2 separate regions of the Homo sapiens genome follow, and region 2 is linked to region 1. Evidence: fine-mapped expression QTL. Tissue or cell type: monocytes after triphosphate RNA. Region 1 holds a variant in brackets; the other region holds the start of a gene. All regions are shown on one strand. Distances are between the middles of the regions.

The links. PIP is the estimated chance that this variant, and not a neighbour inherited with it, causes the effect.
Region 2: it holds the start of JUP, and the variant in region 1 is fine-mapped to the expression of JUP in monocytes after triphosphate RNA (Kim-Hellmuth 2017, PIP 0.95).

What each region holds. Positions count from the first base shown.
Region 1 is chr17:40,826,249-40,834,352 of GRCh38, reverse strand. It overlaps KRT10-AS1 (KRT10 antisense RNA 1), which reads right to left. Exons shown (of 3, transcript NR_160888.1): 2 at 1,154-1,238. Among named protein-coding and RNA genes, the nearest start is that of KRT10, 7.7 kb to the right of the region's middle. RefSeq lists a silencer at 6,015-6,244 and an enhancer at 5,988-7,187. The variant T/C (reference allele first, on the strand shown) is at 4,980.
Region 2 is chr17:41,781,756-41,789,859 of GRCh38, reverse strand. It overlaps JUP (junction plakoglobin), which reads left to right and starts at 3,149. Exons shown (of 14, transcript NM_002230.4): 1 at 3,149-3,272. RefSeq lists silencers at 3,181-3,480, 3,645-3,857.

The sequences.
Region 1 (8,104 bases):
ATGTGTTGCTTTGAAATCCAATGGTATATTCACACGTGACATGTCTGGTCACAGATGTCTCAAAACATTTTGTGTCTCCACAGTATAATTAGTTTGCCCTGTAAAATTTAAAGGCAATTCTTTAATTTTAAACTATAGAGGAACAGTAAATTAGGATAAGAGAGAAAGACACAATACCAGGAGTAAATATACTTACATGGTTTCTTCACAATTACAAATTAAGTTCTATGTGGTACTAGTTTATGCCATTCTGCACTCTTCTTCTACAATGTAATTTTTGATGAATCATCTTTTTACTTTTATTTTCCATTCCTTTCCTCTTTTAAATTTTTTAAAAATTTTATGGATACACAGTAGTTATACATATATATGGGGTACATGTGATATTTTGATACAAGCATACAATGTGTAATGATCAAATCAGGATAATGGGGATATTCATCATCTCAAACACTTATTTCTTTGTGTTGGGAACATTCTAATTTCACTCTAGTTATTTAAAATATATAGTGAATTTCTGTCAACTATAGTCACTCTATTGTGCTACTGAACACTAGATCTTATTCCTTCTAATTGTAAGTTTGTACCCATCAACCAACCCTCTTTATCCCCTACTTTCTCTCCCTCACCTCCCTACTATCCTCCTAGCCTCTCTGGTAACCATTATACTCCTCTTTATCTCGATGAGATCAATTTTTTTAGCTCCCACATATGAGTGAGAACATGTAATACTTGTCTTCTTTTTAATCTAGTTTGACAGAAACTGAAAGTAACTACTGTTACAATATGTTACCCCAATATAGCTTGTGGGGTCTTCATCCTTGGAGAGTTTTGAGATGGAAGGAAGGAAGCAGGGGAGGGAGGGAAGCAGGAAATTCTAACTAGACCAAATTTAGCATTTATATTCCAGATGCCAAGAAAAAAAAATAATGCAACATCTTATAGCTCTGCAAATATGCACTCATTTATATCTAAGCATTAGACTAGAAAATTCTAACTAGCTCTACATTTCAACCAAAATTATCAATATGGAAAATATTTGGAGAGACACCAAAAAGTTTAATAGCTTTTGAATGTATATAAGTTGGAAACTTTCAAAGCAACAGAACCCCTCCATGTCATAGTTTACTACTAAATTAATTCACATACACACCTTGTGTTCACCGTTGTATTCCTCACGACTTAAGTTAAAAACCTGATGAAAAGTGGTTAATCTCCATAATGGGTGTTAGCTCCATCTGAAAAAGCCAGCATTATAAAAGGATTAATGCTTCAATTATGCATGGTGGCTAATTGCTGTGATTTGTTATTTTAATGACTGGTCTGCCAAAGAGTTAGGAACCTTCATTAACCCATGCCAGACGGACCCTCAGGAAGTTAGTGCAGAGTCTCTCCTGGGAACAGACAAGGCCTACAAGTCTGATCTCTTCCAGGGCAGGATATCTTGCCTCATTAGTTCTTTTTCTTTTCAAATTAGTCTATTTTTTTCATCACAGAAGTATGATAAGGAAGGCTTGTCTAGTCTGAAAAAGAAACTAAAATCCCTTATGTTCTTGTTAATTTTCCAAGTCACATAACTGAAAAATACAATTTTAGCTCATTTCAAAAGAGTTTTAGGAGTTACTCAGTTTAAGCCAGCAACAGTGTGTTTAAAAAAAGAAAAAAGTTAATCATTGTGTTTTTAAAAAGCTCTGAAGATAGGTCTGTGTTCAAATCCCACCAAAGTCCCTTTATTGAATCGTTTTGGGCATGCTAAATTTTAACTAATTTCTTTTCTTTTTTGAGGGGTTTGTGGGAAACAGGGTCTCACTCTGTCACCCAGGCTGGAGTGCAGTGGTGCAATCACAGCTCACTGCAGCCTTGACCTTTTGGGCTCAGGTGATCCTCTCACCTCACCCTCTTGAGTAGCTGGGCCCACAGGCATGTGCCATCACACCAGGCTCTGTGTGTGTGTGTGTGTGTGTGTGTGTGTGTGTGTGTGTGTGTGTGCGTGCATGTGTTTTGTAGAGACGGGGTTTTGCCATGTTGCCCAGGCTGGTCTCAAACTCCTAGGCTCATGCGATCCTCCTGCCTTGGCCTCCCAAAGTGATGGAACTACAGGCGTGAGCCACTGCGCCTGGCCAACTAATTTTAGTTAAAATAAAATTTCTGGCCAAGGGTGGTGGCTCACGTCTGTAATCCCAGCACTTTGGAAGGCTGAGGCAGGTGGATCACCTCAGGTCAGGAGTTCGAGACCAGCCTGACCAACATGAAGAAACCTCGTCTCTACTAAAAATACAAAATTATTAGGCATGGTGGCACATGCCTGTGATCCCAGCTACTCGGGAGGCTGAGGCAGAAGAATCGCTTGAACCTGGGAGGCTGAGGTTGTGGTGAGCCAAGATTGCATCTCTGCACTCCAGCCTGGGCAACAAGAACAAAACTCCATCTCAAAATAAATAAAATAAAATAAAATTTCCCTCATAAAGTTGCCAACAGGATTTGATGAGACAAAAATGCAAGTAAAATTTAGAACAGGTCTTGGAACATAAAAAAGTCTCATCAAGCTCTATAAACTCTATCTTAGGACTGACTTTGCAAATGTTATTTGCATATTTGTTTAATGGGTTTAATACAAGAAATCAAAAGTTCTTTGGAGATTATCAGTCGTCAGCCTTGTGAAAGAAGCCACAGAATGGTTGTGGTACATTTTCTCTGTTACTATTGTGTGTTACATTTAAATAATTATTTTCTCTGCTACTATTGTGTGTTACATTTAAATAATTATTTAAATCTATTCCTCTACCATTCTTACAACCCCCTTACCAAAAAAAAAAAGTGATTCAAAGACAGAGGGTCCATTTATTATGAAATTGACTAGTTGTCTGAGTCCATAAGGTCAAGTATTTTTTAAAAACCTTTAAAATTAGGAAATTAATTTGATTCCTTAAGACTTTTTCCTTTAAATTTAAGCATGTTACATATACTGACTTAAAATCACTAGAGTGGGGGATTAAATGCTTTCACTGTAAACCTTAACCTCTGTATGTATCATTTCTAATCCAAAACTTTCTCTACTCTATTTAGATCTGTCCAGACTCTCTAAGTAAAAATTATGAAGTTATACCCAATTATAATGTTATTTTCTCTCATATCCAGCCATCCTTGAAATGACCAATTGGACAAGCAACCACAGCTGGACCTAAAGGAATTTTCTTAGATTTATGAGGGGGAGAAAACAGCCACTGAATTTTGGACAATGTTCAGTTTCAATATTTTAAAATGGGTCTGTAGAGAATTGTTTGGTACTTTCGGCTTCACTATTTTTTATGAAAACTAAAAGGGATATTACATTTCTATTTTATGTTATATGTTAATTAATTATCCTACTAATGCGCTAACTCATAGTGAGCAATTGTCTTTTACAAAATGAAATTAATTTACCTGAAAAGAAATCCCATGACATACTAATGAAATTTAAAAGCTAAGTTATATTATATTTAATCCTTAAATTACAACATACTCATAGGCTACCTAGCCAGAAACCCAACTAGAATTGTCAATTCTCCTAATATAAAAAACATTCAAAATTTTTAACTTTTTATGGGTCCATGGTAACTGTATTATTCAGAAGGAACAAGAGATATTTCAATACAGGCAACAATGCATAATAATCACACCCAGGTAAACGTGGTACCCATTACCTCAAGCATTTATCATTTCTTTGTGTTACAAATATTCCAATAATATTTTTTTAATTTAAAATGTACAATAAATTATTGTGACTATAATCACCCTGTTGTGCTATCAAATACTAGATTATATTTGTTCTATCTAATTATATTTTTGTACCCATTAACCATCCCCACTTCCCAGCCCCCTCACCCCACACTACCCTTCCCAGCCTCTGGTAACCATTTTTCTACTCTCTATCTCTATGAGTTCAATTGTTCTCATTTTTAGCTCCCACAAATGAGAACATGAGAAGTTTATCTTTCTATGCCTGGTTTATCTCACTTAACATAATGTCCTCCAGGTCCAGTCAAGTTGTTGCAATAACAGGATCTCATTCTTTTTTATGGCTGAATAGTACTCCATTGAGCATATGTACCACGTTTTCTTTATCAACCTGTCTGTTGATGTACACTTAGGTTGTTTCCACATCTTGGCTATTGTGAACACAATTGCAAAAAAAAAATGAGGGTGCAGATATCTCACTGATATACTGATTTCCATGATTTTGGGTATATATCTAGCAGTGGGACTGCTGGATCATACAGTAGTTCTATTATTAGCTTTTTGAGGAACCTCCATACTGTTCTCCATAGTGGCTGTACTAATTTACATTCCCAAGGACAGTGAACGAGGGGGTTCCCTTTTCTCCACATCCTCACTAGCATTCATTATTGCCTCTCTTTTGGATAAAAGCCATTTTAAGCGGGGTGAGTTGTACAACAAATTACTGTGACTGTAATAATTTACATTATTCATTCAACTGCAGTGAGAATCACATTCTCATTGCACAGTTTTGAGTCATTTCTCTGATGATCAATGATGTTGAGCCCCTTTTTACATACCTGTTTGCCATTATATGTTTTCTTATTTTTTTTTTTTGAGGTCACTCTGTTGCCCAGGCTGGAGTGCAGTGGCAGGAACATGGCTCACCTCAGCCTCCCAAGTAGCTGGGACTACAGACACATGCCATCACACCCAGCTAATTTATTTTTATTTTTTGTAGAGATGGGGTCTCCCTACGTTACCCAGGCTGGTCTTGAATTCCTAGGCTCAAGTAGTCCTCCCATCCCAGTCTCCCTAAGTGCTGGGATTAGAGGTGTGAGCCACCATGCCTAGCCTGTATGTCTTTTGAGATTTGTATGTCTATTCAGATCTTTTGCCCATTTTTTTTATCAGATTATTAGATTTTCTTTCCTATTGAGTTGTTTGAGCTCCTTATATATTCTGGTTATTAACCCTCTGTCAGATGGATAGTTTGCAAATAT[T/C]TTCTCTCATTCCGTGGGCTGTCTCTTTACTTTGTTGATTGTTTCCTTTGCTGTGCAGAAGCTTTTTAATTTGATGTGATGTATGAAAAAAATTCAAATTTTAGAATAAAACTACAGATATATTTTAGCAGGTTACTAGTATCAAGATAATCTCAACAGATCCAAGACAAAAAAAAAGTGACCTTTAATGAAGAGGAAAAAGTGAGGGCCAAAATGTTTTCTTAATATATATAGTGTATTTCCATTCTAAGGAATATATCTTTATATACTTTAAGGTATTTTAAAATTCCTATGCAGAATCTTGGTTTTCTTATCATTCTTACATATTCTTACATCAAAAAGTATCATAATTTCCTTTAAAGCAAAATTAAATTAGTTGTCTTCAACCAGCCTTCATTTAAATTTTTAACTTGCACTATTGCCAAAACATACAGGCCAAGAGTTTGGAGAAAAAAATAAAGGCAAAGAAAGTGGGGAAAGGCACTGAGGCAATACGAAAACATTCAGAGAACAATGAGTACTGGGTGCAGCAAGAACAGAGGCACCCTCCCTTCTCTAAAGGAACTTAAATGTCGTATTGCATTGGAAACACTAATAAAGAGGCCAGAATATTATAACAAATTATAAAACACCAAGTTGTTCAACATAGGAAATGAGAAGAAAGAGACAGCCGTGAACTACAGACTAACGGTGGGAAGTCTCATGAAGGAGATGGCATTTAAGTCAGAGTCTGGAGTTGAGGTAGAATAACTTGAATAAACAGCAAAGTAGAAGATGGGCATTCTAAGCCAAGAGCAACAAACACAAGCCTTAAAATGGAACAAAGCATAGTATCTTAGCCAAGAGTAGAAAGGCCTGCTTAAAGGATTAAGTAATTAAAGGATTCTTAAAGGAGATGCTAACACACATTTTTTCACTGAATCATGGATTATTATCCATATTTTAATATTTAACATTACTATCCATATTTTATAGGGTAGTAAACTGAGACACGGAAAGCTGAGTATCTTGCCCAGGGCCACATAATTACTTTATGAAGAGAATGTAGCACTCCTTCCACTCCCCACCCTGACTCACCGCAGGGAGCATGAGGTTGGACAGACAGAGTCGGGCAAGGTTATGGAGAAGACTTAATCCATCCACAAGAGGTCCGAGTATGTTGATGAAGTGATGACAGTACTGTTTCAAGAACATCAACCCTGCCGCAGTGAACAGATCTTAATTGACAGTGCTGAGTCAAGAAAACCACTTCAGAAGCTGGTGAAGTAATCTTCGAGAAAAGTGGTGAAAGCTCAGATTAGGGCAGTTACAGTGGGGCTACACAGAAAGAAACGAATACATTAGCTATGACAAAGAGAAGGTGACAAAATTAGTGCCTTGGTGGATGTAGGAGATAAAGAAATGAAGTTTAAAGTGAAAGGAAGTGTCACTCAAAGAAAAACAGATGGCATGGTTTATCACAAAAGTTATCAAGCTGAACACCTTTTCCCCACCCTACTTTCCTCTCCAGCCATTTTCTCCTCCCTCACAAGCCATTTTCTAACTTCTCACCCTATCCTTTCATTCATTCCTATTTTGAAGGCATCCTGTGGGTTGGACAGTGGGTTAACCTATGAGAAACAGAGATCACAAAACAGTAATAGCAACAAAAATATATTCATTAAGTGCTTATTCTATGCATGCAAATCATTGTTCTAAACGCTTTATATTTATTAACTCATTTGACTCCTGCTACAACTCCACAGAGTATGAAAAATTATAATCCCTACTTTAGAGAGGAGGACATTGAGATGAAACCTCACAGTAAATGGGGGAGCCTGGATTGTAACCCCGGCAGTCTGACCCCAGAGCCCACCCACTTACCCTGCTACACTACCCTCAAAACTCAAAAGCCTTCAAGCAGTTTCCATATTTTTGTGGCTTCCATCACAGTACAGTCCCAGAAGTTTCAGAAAAATTGATATAGGAGTGTTTGTAGATTTTAAATCCCTGAATTTTAGAAGTTTACCAATGACAAGACATGAACTTTATCAATTGATATCTTAGTTGTCCAACAATTAGCTATCTGAGAAGAGGGTACCAAATCTATCAAATAATGATACAATTTTCCACTTTGTTTTGACTCTGTGGGTAGTAATCACAAAAGTATATTAAGCAATTTGCACAGTCACAGAACAGTAAAAAGAAAATGCCTGACTCTTAAACTTTGTGATAAACAACAGAAAATTCTAAATATTTAGATCAACCTTGCCATCTTGAGATATAACCTGCATTACCAGATTTGTCCTTCTGCAACTACCTAAACTATGCATTATATCTCAATTATATGTATTATATCTCAATCAGAAAAAGAAACTTGCAAATAGAATTTTCAGCTAGAAACTTCAAAAGCGGATTTTACTTGAAGCAAAATAAGGAAGAAATAAAAAGGATCCAAATCCCAACAGTGAGACAAGTCAAACTGATAACAAACTTGAATCCACAACATGCTTCTAGAGCTCCGGCCAAATTAACCCCATGCGAATAGCAACTATATCCGTCTTAACCACGACTCAAAGTTCAGAAGCAATTAAAGAAGAAATTGATAAACTGGACAACATGAAAATAAAATACCATAAGCAAAGTCATCAATTCCAATATTGGGTATGCATCATGAATTGCCCCACCACTACTCAATTAAAATTGTCCTCTGGAAGGATGCCAATGGTTCCAAATTACTTTCCTCAATCCATCTTTTCATTGACCTCTCGGATGATCACCTCACCCACGTTCTCTTCTCCCTTGGCTTCACTGATCCTCTTTCCCCCTTTCCCTGGTCCTAGATGTCCTTCTTTTCAGGATTATTCTCTAGCTCTACTTCTTCTTCCCAGCCCCTAAAGTGACTCCAAAAGTTCAGAATTAGACCTTCTGTACATTTCTCTCTAAATTCCTTCCCTTAGGGATCCTAACTACCCCCAAAATCTGCTATTCTGAATCTCTCTCCTTAACAGCAGTCCCATAATTGCTTAAAGACATGTTTACATGAATATCCTGGTATTACCTCAAATTCACGTCTTAAACCAAAACTCATCCTCAATCCCGAACTTTACTTCAATATTCTTTCATTGTGCACTCACACCACACAC
Region 2 (8,104 bases), 960 kb before region 1:
TGCCTTTAAAGGTTTGCAGGCAGGGGACTGGATAAGATGACCTTGCGGCCTTTTCTTCAAGTTCAAGCTACAGGGGAGACTGTGGTCACAGAAACCCCCATCCTATCCCTACATACCTCCTTTCACAAGAGACCAAATTGCCTGTGCAGACAGCTGAGTCTAGGAAACATCATTTCTGATTCTATTCTGTATTCTCAGATACAGATGAATCTCAGTGCCTGCCAGGCACATAGTAGGTGCTTAAAGAGAATCCCTTGATCTGGGAGGAGAGACTCAGCTCTAATCCCAGTCTTTGCCGCTGCTGTGGTGGTGCTTCCACCAGTCCCAGCCTGTGTGTTTAGCTCTGGGGCTGGTGTTATGCAACATGTTCCATGCTAAGACACGCAGGGGGCATTCTGGGGAGACACACACACACACACACACACACACACACACACACGGTTTATTCTGAAACCTTATTTCTGCTCCTCCACCCACATGGGCTCCTCCACCCCTCTCTGCAGTCAACCAGCCCTACCCTGCCTCTTTGCTGAGGTCAGGAGAAATAGGAAGGAGTCAGGCCAGGCTTGGAGCTGGGACGTATGTGTGTGTGCATGTGTGGAGGTGGGAGGTGGGCAGAAGGGGGAAGAAATGAAACCCTGGCAGCTGCAGCAGTCCAGGATTGTGAGCCCATTCCTTCCCCAGCTGTGGCCTGGCTACAGCTCTATGTGACAGGGTGACAAGCAGGTGGATGGGGCAGGGGTAAGGCAGGGATAAAGATAGGGAGGTAAGCTGGAGGATGGAGAGTTGAGGAAACAGGCAAAGGGCGGTGGCCCTGGTTATGGGATGGCCACTAGTTCAGGGATGTCCGTATCTCCCTGGCCCTGCTTTTGGATGGCGCAACTTCAGAAGGGAGAATGTTCAGCTACCATTCTTTTCTCTGGTGGGGAAAGTGGTCAAGGTTGCTGCTAAGGTACCTTCATCCAGCCCATCCTGTGTGCTAGCTTTGGGGCTGTAGAGCTTTGTTGATGGGGGACCCTTTTCTAAACCACCACTCCTCCAAAACCCACCCACACACGCTGCTTCTGCTTATCCTTCTATGAGCTCTTTGAAGGTTGGGATCATTTTTATTTCCTGTGTCACCAGGTTTTATTTTCTGTGTTCACCAGTGCCTAACATACAGTTGACAATGAATACTCAAGTGTTGAATGAAGGAATGTTTGTAGGGCCCTTGGCACACCATACAGCCACGAGCAGCATTCATGTCATCAACCACAGAAAGGAAGTGCCCTTGTCTTCTTAAGCTGCCTGTGAGAAGTCCTTTTTATTTTTTTGAGACAGAGTCTCACTCTGTCACCCAGGCTGGAGTGCAATGGCATGATCTCAGCTCACTGCAACCTCTGCCTCCCGGGTTCACGCCATTCTCCTGCCTCAGCCTCCCGAGTAGCTGGCATTACAGGTGCCCGCTGCCATGCCTGGCTAATTTCTGTATTTTCAGTAGAGATGGGGTTTCACCATGTCGGCCAGGCTGGTCTCGAACTCCTGACCTCAAGTGATCTGCCCACCTTGGCCTCCCAAATTGCTGGGATTACAGGCATGAGCCACCACGCCTGGCCGAGAAGTTCTCTCTGATCTCTACCCCAGGCTCTCCTATCGCAGAGGGGTGTGCTGCCCGGTTTATTTTTTTCTTTTCTTTTTTTTTTTTTTGTTTGAGATGGAGTCTCGCTCTGTCATGCCCAGGCTGGAGTGCAGTGACATGGTCTCGGCTCACTGCAACCTCCGCCTCCCAGGTTCAAGCAATTCTCCTGCCTCAGTCTCCCAGGCAGCTGGGATTATAGTTGCCCGCCACCACGCTCGGCTAACTTTTTGTATTTTTTGTAGAGATGGGGCTTCACCATATTGGCCAGGCTGGTGTTGAACTCCCGACCTCAGGTGATCCACCCGCCTTTGCCTCCCAAAATGCTGAGATTACAGGAGTGAGCCACTGCGCCTGGCCTGCCCCGTTTCTTTCATGCCAGGGCTGGATTTCCTTCAGATCTGCTGCTTGATGTTTCCAAGCCCACCAAAGCCTCCTGACACCAATACTGTATTTTTGTGCCAATTAATTGTTCTGTCTCTCCTCCAAGTGTTTGTGCCTTTTCTCTGCCCCTTCCCCATTGCCTTGACATTTTATGTCTATGCTCCTCTTCCATGAGGGGAACAGCTGGTTTGATGGTCCTTCAAATGAGAGGAAGGAGGTTCTAGCTTGGGGTGTGCCACTTTGTAGTTTTGTGACTTCTCTGAACTTCGGTTTCTTCATCTTTACAATGAGGGTCGTTTTCTCATCCTAACTATTTTTCAGAGCTGTCACAATAATTAAAAAAAAACATACCGTTAATTTAAATTTCTAACCTTTAGCAGTTTCTGAGTGCTTTCACAAACCTGACCTCATTTAATCCCCACATACTCCAGTGAGGTAGATATGGCTAATGTATCCAGTTTACAGAAGAGGAGAAACAGGGTGAAGTAACTTGCCTAAAATCATACCAAGTGGGAGAAGACCAAACCTGGCCTTCTAATTCTAAATCCCAGGAGTACTCCATCTTTCGGGAAAAAAATCCCACCCCAGCACAAAGCCTATGAAATGCTATACAAATATGTGATTACTACTTTGGGGCAAGGATGAATAAGCCCAAAGAAGCATCATGCCTGACGCTGAGTTGGCTGGCCGGTGAAGGCGTCTGTCCCTTCCCTTGGTATCCCTATGACTTACCTGTTGGACAGGTAGGGGGAAGGGGAGAGTAATGAGTCTCACCTGCTCAGAGCAAGGGTGGGGCAAGACACACCCCATCCCTTCCATTGGTTTTTTCCTTAGTCTTACTGACAGAGCCTTGTCCAATCAGGAGGAAGTAACTTTCTATCTGCCAATAGATGCAATGTTAGGATGAGACCTCAAGTTAGAGTCCATCCCTAGAGCCGACTGGCAGTCCCCGGGGCCAATGGCAAGCGGATAAACAGAGGCGGCCGTGGAAGAGGACTGGAGGCGAGGCTCCGCCCCTCCACGGGACAGTCAGGCGAGATAGCCAGTGAGCTCGCACCAGAGGGTGGGCGTCTCCCCCAGGGGCGGAGCTTCGAGGTGGCGAGGGGCGTGGCTTGGCTGTCAGGTCTCTTCGCCTTTTGTTCGGTTACTGAGTTGCTGCCTTGGCCAGAGTCCGGAGCAGCCGCCGCCCGACCACGCCGAGCTCAGTTCGCTGTCCGCGCCGGCTCCCACCCCGGCCCGACCCCGACCCGGCCCGGTCAGGCCCCATACTCAGGTGCGGGCTATCGGGGGCGCAGGTATCGTTGGGGACAGAGGGGTGGCGAGCGGCCGCGGGGCCGGTCCCAGCCGTCCCTGGGCAGGTGAGGGCCGGTGCCATCGAGCGCCACCCTGCACCGGCGGCAGGGGGCGCGCTGGGGTCCTGGGCGCGGCGACTTGGGGGTCGCGCGGTTCGGGCCGAGCGCGCCTCGGAGCTCCGCGAACCAGAGATCTGAGCAAGGCGGGGAGGGATCCGGACAGGTGCCTCCGGGGTCGCGCCTCCCCCGGGGCCCGCGCAGCTCGCCCGACGCCGCGTCCCTGACTCTCGCCCTGGGCTGGCGGGGGAGACTTTGCTCTGCTTCGACTGCGTCCCAGGGCTCACGCTGCAGTCAGGAATTTACCGTTTGGGGAACTTGCTGCCGCTGGTCTCTTTGGGGCCACCCTCACCCCACCCCACGCGTCATCCTCGCTTTCCCTCCCTCCCTACTCCCCCAGGCCTGGGTGGGGCCCTATTGTTTGCGCCCAGCTTGCCCAACTGTGGGGGCCGAGCGCACATTTTCCCAGCGACTCTGGCCCCACCTGCCGAGCAGGTGAGCGCACGGAGTCCAGAGGCCCTGCCCTCCAGCTCCCAGAGCCTCGTCGATACTACCTGCGGCGCCTCCCTCCACGCCGGTGGGAGCCCGGCTCTGGCTTCTTCAGCGGAGGTGGGATGGAGTGACTGGGGGGTGCAGGGCTCGGCTCAGTGTCCAGCTGGTGTCTGGCACCCGTGGCTCGCCCTGGGGTCTGGGGGGTGGGGTCTGTGCACGGATGAAGAATTCAGGGTCACCTGGCCCAGTTTCCAGTAGCTGTGGCTGCCAGAGTGTTGGTAGGGGAACAGGACCCGTCTTCTCTAACCTCTTATTGTTGGAAAAAATCACCCAAAACAAACTTTGCAGGAGGAAGTATTCACAGCAGCTTTATCTGGGGGTTTTCCCGTCTCCTTGCCCAAAACTTCCTTTAGGCTTAGGGGGTCCTTCCTGGTGCAAAACCCCTTCCCCCAGCCGGCCCCTGGCTGAACCTGGGCCGGTGCCTGGGCTCCGACCCTGTCTTCCCTGCCCCCACATTCATCCTGTTCGCTGGGCCCCAGGGGCCTGAGGTAGGGGCCGGGGTGGGGGGTGGAAAGTGCTGAGAGGGGAAGCAGCTTCTTCCTTCTCTTCCTGCCTCCTGGGACCACCACACCCCCTCAGACAAGGCCTGCGTAAGTGGTTGTCTCTCAAGCTCTGCCCCCTCCCCAGGAATGGGGGTGGGGCAGGGCTGGGCCAAACTGAGGAAGGTGGGGGGAGTGGTTGTTCTTGTCTTTTTTTTTTTGCCTCTACCCCATCCCCCACATTACTTAGCTGGCTGGTTATTGAGGCAGAAGCGCATGAGGCTGTGGGACTTGCCTTCCATTTGATTTCTGAATTGTGAAGGTGCATGCTTTCTGGAGGCCTGCACAGACCTTTCCCACCCGCTTTCCTGAAAGAATTTGACAGGGAAAGTGAGACCGCAGGAAGGCTTTTTGGGGGAAGGTTTCTTCAATGCTAGACTCTCTCAGGCAGAGCTGCATCGGGCCCCCTGCCTTCCCTGCTCCCAATTTCCTGAGACCGCCCCCCCCCACCCAGAATTGGGGATCTTGATCAGGGTTTGTACCCCGGTTTAAAAAAAAAATCTGAAATGTGGTCTTTTTGCAGGATTTGGAGCCCAGCCTCGTTGGGGAACAGAGAGAGAATACAACAGTTGGGTTCTCTCTCAGTCCTGGGGGTGGGAGAAAGATTGTGGGGGGCGGGGATCGAGAGTGCTTGGAGGGGAAGAGTCTACCACCTCTTTCTTTGTTGTAGATGGGGGAGTGAGGCTGGGGGCCCAGACTCAGCCCCTTTATCCTGGGTGGGGATCACGCTCAGCCCTGTGCTAGGGGGAAGTCAGTGTGGGAACTCAGATCCTTTTCTGCCGGGGGATGGGATTCTGCACCTCTGGGGAGCAACAGGAGCAGGGAGTTTGGGCAAAAATAACCTGCTTTCCCTCTTCTCTGTGCCAAGGTGGAGGAGGGGAGGGCATTGTAATTATGTTGGCTACATGATTAGTTTAGCTAATCTGGTTTGTGGCTGTGATGAAAAGATAATACTGAGGAAGTACTGCTAGGAGGTGCTTGGTGAAAACTGGCCACTGACTGGACTGGGGGATGCGGGGGAGGAGGAGAAGGTAGGACCCAGTTAGTCATTTCTTGCTAGATCAAGCCCCAGCTTGGGTGACTTGAGCCCTCCCACCCCCACTCCACCCCTCCCTTGCACCCTGGCTCCACCCCATTCCCTCTGGAGCCTCTGTTTGGGCTGCCAGGGCCGAGGCTTTGAGAATGCAGTGCATAGGAACGAAAAAGGTCGGGCTAGGGCTGCCAACCTTTTTCCCATCCTGGAGCCACCTTAGAGTGAGATGGGTCAATTGACTAGTCTACAGAAGGACTGTTTATTTGGAGAGATGGGACAGTGGGGCAGTTCTGAGCACAGGGCTTTGGGCTTGAACTGAGCTGGGTTTGAGACCCAGCTCTGTCTCTCATTACCTGAGCCTCAGTGACCTCTTTGGCAAAATGGGAATACTAATACCTATCTACCCAGTAAGTACTTGACAAACGGTAACTCAAGATCAAGGTAAGACTTTACAGAAACCAAGCACTTTCTTTTTTTTTTTTTTTTTTTTTTTTGAGATGGAGTCTCGCTCTGTCACCCAGGCTCACTGCAACCTCCGCCTCCTGGGTTCAAGTGATTCTCCTGCCTCAGCCTCCTGAGTAGCCAGGATTACAGGCGTGTGCCACCACCCCCGGCTGATTTTTGTATTTTTAGTAGAGACAGGGTTTCACCATGTTGCGCAGGCTGGTCTTGATCTCCTGACCTCGTGATTCGCCCGCCCCGGCCTCCCAAAGTGCTGGGATTACAGGCGTGAGCCACCTCACCTGGCCCAAACCAAGCACTTTCATTAACTATTTTTACTTAATCCTTATGGCTGGCCAGGCTGGATGGCTCAGACCTGCAATCCCAGCACGTTAGGAGGCCCAGAAGGGTGGACTGCTTGATTGAGCCCAGGAGTTCCAGACCAGCCTGGGCAACATGGAGAAACCCTGTCTCTACAAAAAAATAGAAAAATTAGCCGGGCGTGGTGGTGCATGCCTGTGGTCCCAGCTACTGGGAATGTTGAGGTGGGAGGATTACCTGAGCCCAGGGAAGTCAAGGCTGCAGTGAGCTGTGTCACTGTATTCCAGCCTGGGCAACAGAGTGAGTCCCTGACTCAAAAAAAAAAAAAAAACAAAAAAAACGCGTATCATTATTCGCATTCTACAGAGGAGGAAATTGAAACTCAAGGAACTTAAGTAATTTCCCCAATGTTGTACAGCGAGACCCAAGCAGCACCAAGACTGACGTTTGGGTCCTCTGATTCCAAGCCCAGAACCCATCCTGCTGTATTGCCCCATGCAGCTCTGGAAAGGATTTTTTTTTTTTTTTTGAGATGGAGTCACGCTCTGCCACCCAGGCTGGAGTGCAGTGGCGCGATCTCGGCTCACTGTAACGTCTACCTCCTGGGTTCAAGCGATTCTCCTGTCTCAGCCTCCCGAGTAGCTGGGATTACAGGCATGCACCACCACACTAGGCTAATTTTTGTATTTTTAGTAGAGATGGGGTTTCACCATGTTGGTCAGGATGGTCTCGAACTCCTGACCTTCAGGAGATCCGCCCGCCTCAGCCTCCCAAAGTGCTGGGATTACAGGTGTGAGCGGAAAGGATTTTTCTGCACCCCCTTTTGAGAGCCTCTGCCTGACTGGGGAGAAGAGAATTCAGAAGGGCCCATGAAGGCATGTGTGAGTGGTGAATGTAGGGCAGGTTTTGTAGGTGGGGGTGATACCTGTCCTGGCCACCAGCCCACTTAAATCTCCCCAGTGGCTTGATTTTTAGTTTCCGGTGGAAGCGGCTTCTCCCCAAGGCCAGGGCTGTGGTGAGTGTTGGGGGGAGGTTGAGAGGGAAAGAGGAGGCAGGGGTCAAAGCTGTGCTGCCTCCTAGCTTGGGTTAGGTAGAACCATGGCTGTTCTGGGCTTGTTCATGTGTAGGAAGTGGGAGTTGCCTGCTTTGCTGGGGGCTGGGGCTATGCCAAGATAAAGGGGTGCTGCCCTGTGGGGATTGGCGAGAAACGAGAGTCCGATTTAGGCCTGGGCTAATGTCCTGCTGGAGTTGACGAGGCAGTGCTGCCAGGCTGCTCTTGATGGGGAACTGGCTGTCCTCTGCTCTGAAGCCCAAGAGACCTGAGATAGGCAGCTGCTGGGAGGGCTTTTCTGGTGATGGAGGTGGGGGTCATGTGTGCTGCCTGTCAGCCAGAGCCTTGGCCCTCTAGGGAGGAGCTGGTGTCAGATTGTTCTCCAGACCTGCCTGGTTCTGGTGTCTCTGCCAACTGGACATCTGACACCAGAATGGGCCTGGATTTGGGGTCTGGGAAATGGGTTCTCTTTATGTGATGGTGCAGCCGGAGTACTGAACCTGTCACTACCGCGCTTCTGGATTCCCTGAGGGCAGGCGGGGACCCCAGGCAACGGGATTATTGATCGTGGAGAAGGCTAATGGGACTTGAGACAGAGAAGAAAACAGAATGAACCCCATCCCACTGACTACTACAAAGAGGGCATGAGGTTGCAGTTTTTCCATCTCCCCCGAGGACTTGAGAGCTGCAGGCCCGATGCACTTACTGAAGGGACGCAGTCTAGACAGGAGGAGGGGCTTTCTGCCTGCTAAAGATGAAATCTTGAGTTGAGAAATAAGAGGGAGAGGTGGAGACTCAGCATTGACTCTTCTCTGATGA